Linked DNA regions of Homo sapiens: region 1 is linked to region 2. The links come from fine-mapping of genetic effects on plasma protein levels. A gene starts in region 2. The other region holds a variant in brackets. All regions are shown on one strand. Distances are from middle to middle.

The links. A credible set is the group of variants that fine-mapping cannot tell apart. PIP is the posterior inclusion probability: the model's chance that the variant is causal. Sun 2018 read protein levels with aptamers (SomaScan).
Region 1: its variant is the best candidate, but not a certain one, in a credible set for the plasma level of the COL15A1 protein (Sun 2018, PIP 0.55).

Annotation. Positions count from the first base shown.
Region 1 is chr9:98,872,790-98,881,119 of GRCh38, forward strand. LOC102724684 (a long non-coding RNA gene) reads right to left here and starts at 4,544. Exons shown (of 3, transcript XR_930168.2): 1 at 4,513-4,544. The variant A/ATTT (reference allele first, on the strand shown) is at 4,075.
Region 2 is chr9:98,943,603-98,951,891 of GRCh38, forward strand. It overlaps COL15A1 (collagen type XV alpha 1 chain), which reads left to right and starts at 305. Exons shown (of 42, transcript NM_001855.5): 1 at 305-470; 2 at 560-648. The coding sequence starts at 460. COL15A1-AS1 (COL15A1 antisense RNA 1) reads right to left here and starts at 1,050. Exons shown (of 1, transcript NR_198999.1): 1 at 1-1,050.

The sequences.
Region 1 (8,330 bases), 71 kb before region 2:
AAACAAAAAACAAAAACAAAGTGAACTCTGTGGAGGACTTTTCTTTACTCTGTAGATACATCTTGAGCCGAGTACAGACTGCTCTGGTGGCACAGAGGCGAGCTATCTAGACAGAATCAGGTGCTCGTGAGTGTTAATTCCACCCAGCTCTGCCACTGACTACCAGTATGACTTTGAGCAACTCATTTCCCTTATCTGAGCCTCAGTTTCCCTTTTGGCCTATCAGTTATAGTCCCTGACCTGCCTGCCTTGTAGAGCTGTTGTATGGATCAAAGAAAAAGGGGCTTTCTAGACCCAGGAGTGCTCTTCGAAGGGAGGCCAGGACGCCCAACAGTGACTCACGATCTCAACTCTTCTCATGTTCACCACTCCCACTGTGTTGTGAGGTCTCCCAGATCTGGGGAATCCATGGTCATTATGGATTACAAGTGTGAATGGACAAGCTTGGATACCTCTGAGCACACATTCCAAGCTGCCTTTTTTTTTTGAGACGGAGTTTCGCTCTTGTTGCCCAGGCTGGAGTGCAATGGGGTGATCTCAACTCACTGCAACCTCTACCTCCTGGGTTCAAGCGATTCTCCTGCTTCAACGTCCCTAGTAGCTGAAACTACATGTGCCCACCACCATGCCCGGCTAATTTTTTGTATTTTAGTAGAGACAGGGTTTCACCATGTTGGTCAGACTGGTTTCGAACTGTGACCTCAGGTGATCCACCTGCCTCGGCCTCCCAAAGTGCTGGGATTATAGGCGTGAGCCATCACACTTCCATGCTGCATTCTTTTGATGGCTGCTGACAAAATCTCAACTCCAGCTGTAAGCAAAAATGGAATTTATTGGCACACAGAACTAAGAAGTCAGGGACTTCAGGCACAGCTGGATCCAGGATTCCAACAATATCTATCCTAGGGCTTTTTTTTTTTTTTCTCTGCTTCCTTCTGCTGGCTTCATTCTGAGGCAAGCCTTCCTTACTCCCTGAAGGGACTCCAGGAAGCTCCAGGCTTCCGTCATTCTTACAGCTAGCAATCTCAATATTTTCAGTGAAAGTTCAGGTATTGAGTTTTGCTAGATTCTCTTGGATCAAGGGCCTATCTCTGATGTACCACTGTGGAGAGGGGCATTAGAGGGACCTGAATTCCATGCCCACCTTTGGAGCAGGGACGGACATAGCACTACCTGAACTAGGCATGGGGAGAAGTGGCTCAGTGAAGCAGGAAAGAGAAGATGCATGCCAATCAGGCAATAGCAACTGTCATCAGTTGCCAGTGGCCTGGGCAGAGTGGGTGTTAAATCGTGAGGTCAGCATATCTTGTGTCTGGGGCCCCTTCCTCCTTCTGGGTGCCATCTCCCACCCCTGTGCCATCAGCTGGAAGTGGCAGAGAATTACTCAGATGAGCTGGGCCCACAGAGCCAGAGGAATCTGTGGGTCTGGGAAGGCAGCCAGGAGGTCAGGCCTCCTAAGCTTGGGGTGGAAGGAGCCTGCCAAGTCTTGGACTCCCTCCTTGCCCCAGCGCCTCCCTGCCTGGCTGCAGCTAGATCCCTGGAGGCAGACAAGTTCGGAGGGCAAGGGTGAGGGGGTGCACTGATAGAAAGAGGAGTGACGGGACTCAGGAGGCCTGAGGTTAGGCTGGGTGAGCTCTGGCTCACTGGGAAGCCATCTCTGCCTTAGACTTACCTCACAGGTGTGCCACCTGAGCACAAGGCCCCATGCCTAGACGGGCCCCATGCTTGGTATAATGCTCTACTGTTACCATCTTGAAATTCTTCATAGTTTTTGAAATAGATGCCTCCAGTTTTCATTTTGCACAACCCCCAAAAGTTATGTAGCCAATCTTGGTCTCAGTCTCCCCATCCATGTCAAGAAAGTGATGGACTAAAGGACCAGAGGAGCTTGGAGGTGACTTCCCGCTGACAGCAGAAGCAGGTGGTCCTCCAGGGGAGCTTCTCTGGGCTCACAAGTGGTTATTTCCCCTGAGAAGGTCACCCAAAGCTGCCCCATGTTGCCACCTCCTTTCTCCTCTTCCAGCTCCTGTACTTTGAGGGGTGGAAAGAGCTAGAGCTGCGATCAGCACCCACGACTCAGGGAGCACTGGACTTCCCATCATCACTCACCCATCTGGCTTAACGCCCCCCCCACCATCTGGCACCATGCTACTCATAGTGTGGGTCATGGACCAGCAGCCCTGGCATTCCCTTGGAGCGTGTTAGAAATGCAGACTCTCAGGCCCCACTCAGACCTACTGAAGCAGAATCTGCATTTTAACAAGCTCCTGGGTGATTCTCAGGCTCATTAAGGTCTGAGAAGTTCTGATGAAGGCTCATTAAGGCTCCCTCCAGGGCATGCCTTGGGCCTCAGGACTGGGCAGGACAGCATTGCGGGGTGGATAAAGGCACAGAGCTGGAGAAGTTCAGGGTGTCCACATTTGCTCCAGCTGCCATGACAAGTACTCCAGGCTGGGTGGCTTAAACAACAGAAACTGATTTTCTTGCAATTCTGGAGGCAAGAATTCCCAGATCAAGGTGTGCCCTGGGATGGCTTCCTCTGAGGCCTCTCTCCGTGGCTTGTAGGTGGCCGCCTTCTGTCTCTGTGTTCACATGGCATTCACTCTGTGCTTCTCTGTGTCTTAATCTCCTTTTCTTATGAGGACACCACCCGTCAGATTGGGTTAGGGTACCCCAATGAACTCACTCAAACTTAATGACCTCTTTAAAGACCATGTATCCAAATACAGCCACATTCTGAGGTACTGTGGGTTAGGACGTCAATGTATGAATTCAGGGAGGGACGTGATTCAGCCCATGGCACGGGTGTGCACAGGAGGGGCACAAAATGGAAGTCATCAAGCGTTCACTATGTGCCAGGCTTGGAGCCAGGTGCTCTGCTTATTTTTTTCACTTAATCCCCAAACAGCCCTGAGAGGTACAAAGTGAGCCACAAACACTGTTGAGGTCCCTCTGTGTGCCAGGCACTGGGCTAGGCACACACATACATCATGGCACGGCTTCCCCACAGAGTCTGCTCCTCATCACACTCACAGGTGTGGAACCTGAGACCCAGTGAGGAAAGAGAGGATGCTCCAGGTCATTCAGGGATGGGGCCAGGACTCAGGTGTTTGTGGTCCATTTTCACCCCTCCTTGTCTACCTCCTTGCCTTGCTGCTTGGGAACAGTGGTTTACAAGTCATTCTGCATTGCCATCAAATAAACTAGAGGGTCTTTTTGTTTTCTTTTTTGAGATGGAGTCTCACTCTATTGCCCAGGCTGGAGTGCAATGGCGCAATCTTGGCTCAGTGAAAACTCCGTCTCCCGAGTTCAAGCGATTCTCCTGCCTCAGCCTCCCAAGTAGTTGGGATTATAGGCATGCACCACCACACTTGGCTAATTTTTGTATTTTCAGTAGAGATGGGGTTTCACCATGTTGGTCAGGCTGGTCTTGAACTCCTGACCTCAGGTGATCCACCCGCCTTGACCTCCCAAAGTGCTGGGATTACAGGTGTGAGCCACGGTGCCTGGCCATTAGAGGGTCTCTAATTGTAGAAGACAAAAAGAAGTGGTGAAAAACAAAAAGACACCTGCTGGCTGGTGGGGTGTCCTGGAGAAAGGCCACACCCATACCAGGCACCAAGGCTGGTGTGTGATGAATGTGGAACCCCTGGACCCTTTGCAGATGGGGTTCTGGAGATACTCCAGCCTCAGCAAGGGGAGGAGCATATGCTCCAAGCTTGCCAAGTGGGTGGTTCCTGCGGTTGGATTTTGGGGCACACTCTGCTCTGGGGAGTGGAGCTCACAGAGCCATTTTCAGTCCCGGTAAGCCCCCAGTTTCCTTCTGCCACTCTGAGCTCTCTTTACCTATTCTTCATCATCGGGACACTTGTGCGTCTACACTGGCAGTCATGGGATTTTTTTTTTTTTTTTTTTTTTGAGACAGAGTCTCACTCTGTCATCCAGGCTGGAGTGCACTGGTGCTATCTTGGCTCACTGCAACCTCTGCCTCCCAGGTGCAAGTGATTCTCCTGGCTCAGCCTCTCGAGTAGCTAGGATTACAGGTGCATGCCACCACACCTGGCTAATTTTTGT[A/ATTT]TTTTTTTTTTTACTAGAGATGGGGTTTCACCATGTTAGCCAGGCTAGTCTCGAACTCCTGGCTTCAAGTGATCCATCCACCTCTGCCTCCCAAAGTGCTAGGATTATAAGCATGAGCCATGGCGACCGGCCTGGTCATGGGATTTTAAAGCAGGCAGGGGCCCTGGAAGGACCCAGTGGGCCAGTCCATTGACCCTGGTTTGAGTCACAAACTCCTTGGAGAGCCTCAAGGGAGCCATGGCCCCTGTCACTAGGAGAGCACACCTGTGTGCACACACACATAGACACACCTGACCATTCTCAGCTGCAGGAGCCTCCAGGTGCAAGATTCTGCCTTAGAAGGCTCTACAGCACCTCCGCCCTTGGTGCACACCCTGGGGGATGAGTTCTTACTTTCTGCCGTGCCTGCCCGGGGCTTCGGTGCACCACCCCAGTTACCTCTTTTTATTGGAGCCGACTCTGCCTCCCAGTGGCTTCTTTCCATGGGTCATTGTTCTGCTCCTCAGAGCCACCTGGAATGAGGTCACCATGTCCTCTCTGTGACACAGATGAGAAGCTAAGGATCTACATCCCCTGGAGTTCGCCCCTCTCCATGGTGTTCAGCTGTGGCTCTTTCTTCGCAGGGCGGGCATCCAGACCCTTCCCAGCCTGTCTTGGCCCCAGGCCCATTCCTGTTTCTCATTGTTCTCATTAAGGGCTGGCCCCCAAAACACAGAATTCCAGGTGCAGTCTGGCCAGCCCAAGGAGAGCAGATCGCTCATCCCGTTTGTTCTGGATGTTGGCCCCCATTAATGTAGCTCTGGAGACAAACATAACACAGCAGATACACTGAGCTGGGGGTCAACTCAGACTCCCAGATTGTCTCCCTGTAAACAGCTGTGCAGTCACATCTCCCCTTTCCTCTTTGTAGTATTTGTGAGGTTTTAGATGGAAATCCCAGTTTATACCAGATATTTGGTTTTCAATCATGCTCCTTTACTGCTCATAGTGCCCTCAGCCAAAGGCATTTCCACCCTGAGCTTCAGTTTCCTCACAGATTTGTTGGGATGGTGAAATGTATAAGGTCAATGTTGGGGCTTGGAAGGGTATTCTCTTTCTGTGTGTTGTTGTTTTGGAAAAGATTTCTGGTTGTTTCCAAAATCCATTTCATCCCTTTTACATGGAAATAAAACTTTCACCTTGGTGTGCAGATGCTCAGCATGAGACCATAATTCCCAGCCTGTCTTGCGCTACATGGAAGGACTGGGCAAGCAGCGTGCAATAGTCTCTGCTTATCCACACTTCCCACAGTTTCTGTTACCCAAAGTCCAGAACGGTAAGTGATTTGGGGAGAGAGAGAGAGAGAGAGAGAGAGAGAGAGCGAGAGAGAGAGAGGGAAGTCACGTTCACATATTTTTTTATTACTGTGTATTATTATAATTGTTCTATTTTATTAGTTACATTGCTAGTCTTTCACGGTGCCTCATTTATAAATTAAACTTTATCATAGGTATGTATGTATAGGAAAAACATAGTGTATATAGGTTTGGTACTATCTGCAGTTTCAGGCATTCACTGGGGGTCTTGGAACGCATCCCCCACAGATAAGAGGGACTCTTGTACTCAATTTCCAGTTGTGCCTTTGAAGAGAGGAGTGTGTCCTCTTTCGTTACCTGCTCCGTGGATGGAGCATAGATGTGTGGGGCGCTATCTGGGATACCTGGATGAGTACAGCCCCTTGGGATGGCAGAGCAATAAGACAGAAGCAGCCTGGGCCCCTGATGACTTCAAAGAGCTGCCTCAGCCTCCTCAGAAAGACTTTCTTTTTTTCTTTTTTTTTTTGAGATGGAGTCTCTTTGTGTCACCCAGGCTGGAGTGCAGTGGTGCAGTCTCAGCTCACTGGAACCTCCGCCTCCCGAGTTCAAGCAATTCTCCTGCCTCAGCCTCCAGAGTAGCTGGGATTACAGGCGCGCATCACCACGCCCGGCTAATTTTTGTATTTTTGGTAGACACGAGGTTTCACCATGTTGGTCAGTCTGCTGTCAAACTCCTGACCTCATGATCCGCCCACCTTGACCTCCCAAAGTGCTAGGATTTCAGGCATGAGCCACCACATCTGGCCAGAAGGACTTTCATGTGAGTGAGAGATGAACTCCTATTCTGCATACGCCGTGTTATATGTGTTGCTCAGCTGAGCCTTGTCACAGCCTAATCAATGAGTTTTTTTGAGGCATTTTATTTAGAAGAGGCAGATACAGGCTCAAATCAATAGGGAAGAAGAGAGGGACTTGCAAATACTCTAAAGCCAATTTTTTTTTTCTTTACTTCTGCTTCTTTCCTTCCCTCCTGCCATTTCTCCCCTCTCCTTCTATCCAAACTTTGAACGCTTATTGAGTTCATTTTCTGTACCAGGCTTTCTGCCAGGCACTGTGGATACAGAGATGATTAAGACACACTGTCTGCTGTAGACTAGCAAGGGAGACAGAGGGCATGTAGACATGCCCTCAAGTCCATGTGACAAGATCACCATGGAGGGGTTTACAGGGTGATGGGTGGACTCAAAGAAGCAGCCACCTCTTTTGCTTGGAAAGGTGGGAGGAAGGGAGTCAGAGGATTACGTCTTGAGTTGATCCATGTGGGCTGCATAGAGGTTCTCCAGAAAGAGAAGAGAGGGAACAGCATTCCAAGCAGAGGAAATAGCTTGTGCAAAGTACTAGAAGTGTGCAGGAGCATTGAGCGCAAAGAGCTGTGGGCTCTTTGTGGTGGGAGTGAGGGGTGGAAGACAGCTGATCAGGGACTTGCTTTGCAGCAAAGTGCCCTGCCAGAAGTCAGCTCCCTTCTGAGGAGTGCTGAGCATGGAAGAAACAACTGCTTTGCAAACAAACACCTCATGTATTTATTTCCTCTGTTTTCCTCACATCTCTCATCTTTTCCCCTGAATGAGATGCCTCCTGGTTTCACTTAATTTCCACAGGAAACTGGAAGGAGCCACATCTGTCTAAATTCTCCCTAACTCACTCCAGATTTTCAGGGTCAGAATATGGCCGCTGAGAGTCAGGGTCTCTGTGGGGTCAGAGGTGACAGCCCCAGAATTGGGGTCTTGTGCCGAGCCCCTTATGGCAGGGGAGGCCAGGCATCAGTTCCCTGCACGATACAGATGTTCAGCAAGGATTTTGTTGGGAGCATAATCAGCGGCCAAGGCAGCCCCTGGAGAGGGGAATGTGGGCCTCATTCCCATGGGCTCCTGCCCAACGTTCCTTCGTTCCTGAGTTTTATGTTCCTGGGAGAGGCTGGAGGCCGAGCAATGCTCCAGCTCCACAGCAGCTGCCCCCTTCTCGGAAAGGCAACAACCTCTTTCCTCACATGGCCTTGGGACGTTGGACACCCAGCTCGGGGACATTGTTTTGTTCACAGCTGCATGCTCATGGCATTTATTTAGGGGACACTTTCTCTTCTGCCACCTACAAGGAGGCAGCTTGGAGCAGAAGGAGCAGAGCTGAGCCTCCAGAGATGGAGGTCTGTTCCTGGAGAAAGTGGCTCCCTCTCTTTGAGGCTCAGTTTCCTCATCTGTAAAACAGAGCAGGCTGGCCCAGGTGGCATCTAAGGTGATGTGTGAACAGCTGTGGACTTTGGAGTCATGCAGACTTGTGTTCTGCCTGGGCCAGTTGGCAGCTGCGTGGCCGTGGGGAGGTCCTGAACCTCCCCAGCTGCGGTGTTCTGTCCTCATCTGTGCATGGAGGACATGGGATCAGGTCATCTTGAAGGGCCTCGAGGGCTTAGTGATGAGGCCAGGAGAGCCCACTCTCAACAACGATGCTGAGGAAAAGCATTTTGTGTTCTCCCTCTTGGCAAAATATTTATAATTCTATGCCTGTTGGAACCAAGCAAGGTCAGCACAAAAGAATTGGCCCTCCACTATCCTAAGAAAACTAAAGCAGGAACAGTAGAGCAAATACCACATGCTCTCACTTGTAAGTGGGAGCTAAACATCAAGGACACGTGGCCCCGAGGAGGGGAACAACAGGCACAGGAGCCTACTTGAAGGTAGTGGATGGGAGGAGGGTGAGTTGGGTGCTATGCTCATTGTCTTGGTGGCAAAATAATCTGTACAGCAACCCCCTGTGACACTCAATTTACCTATATAACAAACCTGCATATATACCCCTGACCCTAAAATAAAAGTTAACAAAATAAATAAGTAAAACAAAACATATGGGAGACCGAGGCGGGTGGATCACCTGAGGTCGGGAGTTTGAGACCAGCCTGGCTAACATGGT
Region 2 (8,289 bases):
GGCTGTGAAAGAGTGCTTTCTTGCGGGTCAGCCCCGACAGGACAGACTTAAGGGCGGGAGGGAGCCCATCCCGCTTGCCCCAACGAACGCGGGCGCGGGGCTTTCCTCGCAGGTTACATAAGGCAGCCGCGGGTGGAGGCAGCAGAGGCGAGCGCACGTCCGTCGAGGGGGAAAGGGGCGTGGGGAGGCGGCCGGGGCGGCCGGTATCCCCCGGGCGTGAGTGCGCAGCGCGCGGGGGAGCGCAGGGCGCGGCGGAGTCGGGTTTCAGAGCGCGGGTGACTCGGGGCGCGGGCCGGGAGCCGGGATTCTGCCCGCCGCCGCCGCTGCCGAGCGCCGCCTTTGTTCCCTGCAGGAAGGGCGAGCGCGGCGGCCAGCGCTCAGCGACCCTTCGTCCTCCGCTAAGCTCCAACGCTCTGCTCGACTAGCCGCGCGCCTTCCGGGGCTCCGCAGACCCGCGAGATGGCACCAAGGTAAGACCCGCTTCTCTGCTTCCTCGCGTCCCGGGCCCCTCCAATACTCTTGCCCGCCTCACCTTTTCTCCCTCGGGCACATCTTGCAGGAGGAACAACGGGCAGTGCTGGTGTCTGCTGATGCTGCTCTCGGTCTCCACGCCCCTCCCTGCTGTCACCCAGACCCGCGGTGCGACAGGTAAGCAACCCGGTCGGAGGGTGGCACCGGCTGCCTCCGCGCCCGTGGGGGAAGTCGGTTTTGGCGGCGGACGCGGCTGCGATGCGTGCCTCATTCCTGGACATAAAAGGGAGTCTTGCCACTCAGTGCGCACTGGCGGTCCCGCGGGCGGCTACCTCCTGGCAGTGCAGGGGTTATAGCTGTGAATGGGATCCCTGGGCAGCTGGGGCGGTTGGAGCGTTGTCTGGGCACCCGAGATGTCTGAGCTGGGTGCGGAGCCTCCAATCTTAGGCAGAGAGGGACTTCAGAAACAGCGCCAGCGCCAGCGCCAACAGCCTCAGCGCACCCAGCGCCAGCAGCTTAGGTTGTGCGTGCTGGCTGGCTTCTGGTAAGGGCAGGTCTGGTGCCTCTCCGCACACAGGTGCGAAGCATGAACACCGGGAGGGACATCTGGGGCTTTTGCTGCTCAAGAAATAACGGAACTGAATTGCTCGGTTGCTTAACCCAGCTCTGAGTTACCTAAGCGGTCACGTCTATCATGGGCAGTGGCTCCACCGGTGGTGGAAAGAGCTGTGGCCTGGAAGCCAGAGATCTGATCCCTTCCGTTCCCCGGGCCTCAGTTTCTCCAGCAGAACTCAGGCGGTTGGCTGAATAGTAAGATATAAGTTAAAGTAGACCTAAGTTAAAATGGGCCTCGGTTAAGGTCAGACTGCCTGGGTTTGAACTGTGGCTGGCTGAGTGATCTTGGGCAATGGATTTCATCGCTCTGTGCCTCAGTTTCCCCATCTGAAAAAGGCGATTAATTAGACCATTTTACCTTCCTAGAAATGTTGTGAATATTAGAGAAATTAGAAATAATGTGCTTCCCATGATTCCAGTATATACTAGGCACAAAATAAGTGATAGAAATTACTGCTTGATTCTTGCAGTAACTATGTGTTGGAAAGCAATGCAAGTATTTTTATTTTTATTTTAGATTCAGGGAGTGGTCATGTGTGGTTTTTTACAAGGGTATATTGCACGGTGCTGAGGTTTGGGCTTCTATTAATCCCATCGCAATGCAGGTATTTTTATAACATTGAGGTTGAGAGAAGCTTAGAAAGTGGCCAGTCCAAAAGCCAGGACTTGAATCCAGGTCTGTAGGCTCTTGCCCTTGCTCAGCTCTTTCTCCATGCAGTTTTGCAGAAGAGCCATGCTTTCTATAGCTTCTGACCCCCTCCCCTTTGAATTTGGGGGATTAGTACACATCTTCAATTGAATAAGGGAACAGAAAGTCTAGGAAACAACCTCTAGTCGGCCCAAAGGAAACGGGATTGAGAAGGTGGCCTTGGTTAACTCTTTGTTTGCCTGAAGAAGCCCAAGACAGCCCATTGTCTCCTGGGCAACAAGACCCAAATCCGATGATAGCTTTTCCTGCCAGAGTGTCCAGCCTGGCATTTATTGCAGATCAAAGGGCAGCTGGAGTATAGTTTTAGCTTCTCAGCCCCATGGCTCATGTCAGAAAGTTGCAATTTTGCATATGATATAGGGCCCTGCCAACTCAGTGGCAGAGGCCAACTTTGGGTTCCATGGTCTTTTGTGAACTTTGCTGCAACTTCCAGTTTCCCAAAAGGAAGATGGATCTGGGGATAGGAACTTTGGTGTTTCTTTCTCCTCCTGTGTGTGTCTCTGGGATCCCTCAGTGTCAGGGCTGTTGTTTCTAACACAAAGGAAGCCCTATTCCCATTTATAATGTAAAAAGGGAGGGCCAGCAAACCTTCAGGAGCTGAGAACGGTCTAAGGAGGGCCATTTGCAACTGATGGGTTTTCAGTGCCCCTTTGGGGATGTGAAACGATTCCTAAAAATGTAAACTATCCTCCTGCAAACTGCATTTGTAATGCAATTTAATATCCCTAATACTTATAAAACACTTTGTATATCCAGGTGGAGGTGTGAACATGTTCATATTTCATTCATCCAATCCTTACAACCACTCCAGGAGGTGAGGACTGAGAACAGTTACTATCTCTGTTTTTCAGATGAAGAAACAGAGGTCCAAAGTCACAAGACTTCTAAGTGGCTGGGGTGGGATTTGAACCAGACAGTCTGACTCCAGAGTCCTTGCTCTTAACCATCCTAGTGTGTAGTTAGAAGAGCTTCACGGATGGAGAAGGCTTTAGGGGTTCCATGGTCTCCAATGAGCCCCACAATCTGAATGTCACAATTGTAACATGAGTCCATTGCATGGCATTGTGCAGTCTTCAAAGCACAATGTCACCTTCACCACGTCCCTGGAATCACCACCCAGCAGTGCTGAGAAGTAAATTGGGCTCTGTCTTACAGAGGGGATGTGACTTCCTCAAGGCCGCATGACTGTAACTGGGTAGATCCATAATAGCCCTCTCACGTCTGTGAACTTCTGGGCTGGTGCTGTTCCTTCCATAGGACCACTGCCCAACTGGCTATAAAAAACAATTGCCAAGACTTCATAGCACTATGAACCAGCAGTGTTTTAAGTGCCCTGCCATGAATGAGCTCAGTCAATCATCACAACAACCCCATGTCTTATCCCCTTTTACAGATGAGGAAACTGAGGCACAGTCTTTTGCCCAAGGGCATGTAGCCTTCAGTAATATAAGCACAATTTGAGCCCAGAGGGTCTGACTCCAGAATCTGTACTTGTAACCACTATGCTGTATGCTTAAGTGGGGTGGCTTCTGAAAGCATGTTTGTAAGTGGGCTGTTATGAGCGGAAATACATGTTCCCAACGATTTGGCAGTTTCTTAAAATGTTAAATATATACTTACCCTACAATCTAGAACTTCCACTCCTAAGTATCTACTTAAGGGAAAGGAAAGCATATGGCCACCCAAAAACTCATATGTATGTTCATAGCAGCATTATTTATAATGACCAAAACTGGAAATAAAGTTAAATTCACCATTAGCTGGTGAATAGATAAACAAATGAGGTGTATCCATTTAATGGAATACTACTCAGCAATAAAAAGGAATGAAGTATTGATCAATGCTACAACAACATGGATAAACCTTAATACCATTAAGCTAAGTAAAAGAAGCCAGACATTAAAAAGCAATACATTGTAAGAGTCCCTATATATGAGATTTCTGTAAAGGCAGAACCACAGAGACAGAAAACAGAAGCAGAGATTGACTGCAAAGGGGCATGAGGAAACTTTTTGGGGAGTGTTCTAAAACTGGATTGTGGTGGTAGTTGTGCAACTCTATAAATTTACTAAAATAATCTAACTATACATTTAAAATGGGTGAATTTTATGGAATGTAAGCTATGCCTCAATAAAGCTGCTTCTTAAATAAAAGAATGTATTTTCCCAGAGCATCTAGGCCCCAGATCTGGTGGGGCTTCAAGGTGGGGTTCCTAGCCAGCCTGGTACAGAGCTGGCACACAGCTCACAACTTAAAAGCTGCTGGCCTCTTAGGGCATTGATTCTCTCAGAAAATGGGTCCAGAGTTCTGCCTGCACCTCCAGGTCTCTGGATCGACTCTCCCTACTATCCCTGAATGCCATTGTGGGCCCAGGACAGGGCTCCTCAGGTAGGGGTAGAACACATGCATATGGGTTTTTTGCAGGTAGTTGATCTGTTAAAAAGTGGGTCTTTGTAAACTTCCTGATATCCTGCACGCCCTAAAACAGCACAAGTTCAGGTATTGGAAAACCTGGGTTCCACTCACTGACTTCCTCCATGAACTTAGATGAGTTGCTTTTCCCACTCTGAGCCTGTTTTCCCATCTACGAAGTGGAGAGGCAAGAGTCACTCATCTCTGTAGTCCTAATTTAAAATGTTGGGAAACAAAACAAAATAATATTTTTCTAGTTTGAGGTTTGATTATTTCACATAGTTTAGTTCAACAAACCCATTCTGTGCTGGCCCTCATGCTGGCTGGGTACAGAAAGGATTTGGGCACAGAGCTGCCCCAAAGGGGTCATAGTTCACAGGAAGAAAGAAAGGGCCACAGACAACTGTAATGCCATTTTTCCTGAAGTCTTCTCATCTACCATGCAGAATGTCCTGTGTGCAGCCAATCCCATCCTTCTACACCATCCTGTTTAAAGACACACTTGTCGGCCGGGCGCGGTGGCTCACACCTGTAATCCCAGCACTTTGGGAGGCTGGGGCGGGCAGATCATTAGGTCAGGAGATTGAGACCATCCTAGCTAACACGGTGAAACCCTGTCTCTACTAAAAATACAAAAAATTAGCCAGGCATGGTGGCGGGCGCCTGTAGTCCCAGCTACTTGGGAGGCTGAGGCAGGAGAATAGCTTGAACCTGGGAGGCGGAGGTTGCAGTGAGCCAAGATCGCGCCACTGCACTCCAGCCTGGCAACAGAGGGAGACTCTGTCTCAAAAAAAAAAAAAAAAAAAAAGAGACACTTGTCAGTGGGTGTCACCCACATGGCCTCTTGTACCTCCAATGGTCAGGGTTGAGCTGGAGGACAACACCAATCCTTCCTTTTCCTGGTAAAGTTTCAGGGTCATTGGAATACCCAATATTTTAGAAGATAAGGGGGCTATTGTCCAGGTAGGGATGGTGGTGTCACAAGTAATTTGCTCTTGCTAATAAAGTGTTGATGATTGCAAATTATTTGCTTATGTTTAAACTGTTTTATTGTGAAATACAACATCCATTCAGAAAAGTGCATGCTAAAGGTACAGTACAATCTTGTATCACAGAGCAAACATGTAATCCAGATGAAGATATAGGATAATCCCCAGAAGGTCTCCTAAACCCCTTTGCTGTGGTTTTATTTTCCCTTCTTTCTCTCTGAGGTAACCATTACCTTGACATTAACAGTCATCCCTTTCTTGCTTTTTAAAAATAGCTTTACTATCTAAGTGTGTATCCCAAAATTCTGAAGTTCTGTTTTACTCGATTTTGAACTTTTTAAATGCAGAATCTATTCTTTCATGTCTGATTCTTTCAATGAATAATAAGTTTTTGAGATTTATTCATGCTGCTGTATGTGGCTGTAGTTCATTGCCATTGCTGTATAATAGTCCATTGCATTAGCATAGCATATGTTACTTATCCATTCTTCTCCAACATTTGGGTTGTTTCCATTTTGGGCTAATGTAATAGTGTCGCTCTGAACATTCTTGTACATTTCTCTCAGTGCACATGTGCATGAATTTCTGTTGGTTCTATACCTACGAGTGGAGTGCTGAATCAGAGTGTGCATATCCCCCAACTGAGTAGACAATGCCAGCATGTCTTCTAAATGGTTGTACAGATCCACACAGCTACCAAGAAATGAGGGCCTCCATTTCTTCACATCCTCACCAGCACTTGATCTTGTCACTGAGCTTAACTTCAGCATTTCTAATGGGTGCATATTTGATCTTACTGTAGCCTTAATTTCCATTTTCCTAATTATTAATTACCTTTTCATATGTTTATTGACCATTTAGATATCCAGACTTACTTTTTATTGAGGTGAAATTTACATTATATAACAGTAACCATTTTGAAGTGCACAATTCAGTGTCATTTAGTTCCTTCACAATATTGTGCAATCAACATCTCTATCAAGTTCCAAAACATTTTCATCACCCCAAAAGAAATATCTATGCCCATTAATCAATTGCTCCCCATTCCCTCATTTTCTCAGCTTCAGGCAGTCACTAAACTACTTTCTGCCTCTATGGACTTGCCTATTCTAGATATTTCATGAAAATGGAATCATACAGTGTATGACCTATTGTGTCTGACTTCTTCCATTTAACATAAAGTTTTCATGGTTCACTCATGTTGTATCATGTGTCAGTACTTCATGCCTTTTTATGACTGAGTAATATTCCAGTGTATGTATATACCAAATTTTGTTTTTCCATTCATTTGTTGATGGACATTTGGGTTATTTCTACCTTTTGTTTTTTGTGAATAGTGCTGCTCTGAACATTTGCATACAAGTATTCGGATGCTTGACGGCCTGTTTCTACTTCTTTGCACCTAGGAGCAGAATTTCTGGTCATATGATAATTCTGTGTTTCAAGTATGACGAACCCCCAAACTGTTTTCCACAGTGGCTGCACCATGTTTACATCCCCACCAGCAATGTATGAGGGCTTTAATTATGCACATCATCGCCAATGCTTGTTTTCAGTTTTTAAAATTATAGCCATTTTAGTGGATATAAAATGGCATCTCATTGTGGTTTTTATTTGCAATTCTTTCTTTCTTTCTTTTTTCTTTCTCCTTCCTTCCCTCCTTCCTTCCCTCCCTCCCTTCCCTCCTTCCTTCCCTCCCTCCCTTCCTTCCTTCCTTCCCTTCCCTTCCTTCCTTCCCTTCCCTTCCCTTCCCCTTCCTTCCTTCCTTCCTTCCTTCCTTCCTTCCTTCCTTCCTCCCTCCCTCCCTCTCTCTCTTCCTTTCTTTCTTTCTTTTGACAGAGTCTCACTCTGTCACCCAGGCTGGAGTTGGTGGCCGGCCCATCTTGGCTCACTGCAACCTCCACCTCCCAGGTTCAAGCAATTCTCCTGCCTTAGCCTCCCGAGTAGCTGAGACTACAGGCATGCCCAGCTCATTTCTGTATTTTTAGTAGAGATACAGTTTCACCATATTGGTCATGTTGGTCTCGAACTCCTGACCTCATGATCCACCCACCTCGGCCTCCCAAAGTGCTGGGATTACAGGCGTGAGCCACTGTGCCTGGCCTATTTGCAATTTTCTAATGACAAATGACGTTGCGCATTTTTTCAAGTGCTTCTTGGCCACCATCTTCTCTGGAGAAATCCTGATTTAATGGGAAGCATATGAATCAGAGCAGCGCAGAACTTCCCTCTAACCACCCCACTCTTGCTCCCTGGCAGTCTGATTTGCTTTTCTGAGTGAGAGAGATGTGGGTAGGAGTCACACCTGAAGTTTTGCCTCATTGACCTGCAGTCTCCATCTCCCAAAGGACAATTGTCTAGAGCTGGCCACTTTGTCCAGAGCTGGACTTTAGCAATTTGTCATTATTATAAATAGTGCTGCTGGGACATCTTCAGACAAATGGCCTTTTTCTTTTGGATTATTTCCTTTGGCAATATTTCCCCCCAAAGAACTCACCCATCAAAGAACAGAACTGGTTGGACAGTTCTTACTATGTATTTAGATGGATTTTTCTTATTTAATCATGATGCTTCCTAGTATAATTGCCCTCACTGGGTTCTCACTGTACCTGAGATGGAGTCATGCTCCTGGCCCCAGAGGACCCTGCCTTCCTCCACTAACACTAAGTCCCTATGGACTTCAGCTCACATCAAATCACTGGCAGGCTTCTGAATGGGACATGCAACGTCCCACACCTGTGCTTTTGCATAGGCTAGTGCCATTTTTATTCTATTATTATTTTTTGGGACAGGGTCTTCTCTGTTGCCCAGGCTGTAGTGCAGTGGTACAATCTTAGCTCATTGAAGCCTCAAAGTCCTGGGCTCAAGGGATCCTCCTTCCTCAGCCTCCTGAGTAGCTGGATTACATACCCTCATACCCAGCTAATTTAAAAATTTTTTGTAGGCATAGAGTTTTGCTGTGTTGCCCAGGCTGGTCTAAAACTCCTGGCTTCAAGCAATTCACCCTTCTTGACCTCCCAAAGTGCTGGGATTACAGGCGTGAGCCACTGCACCTGGCTACCAGTACCATTTTAAAAATGCCTTTCCCCCATA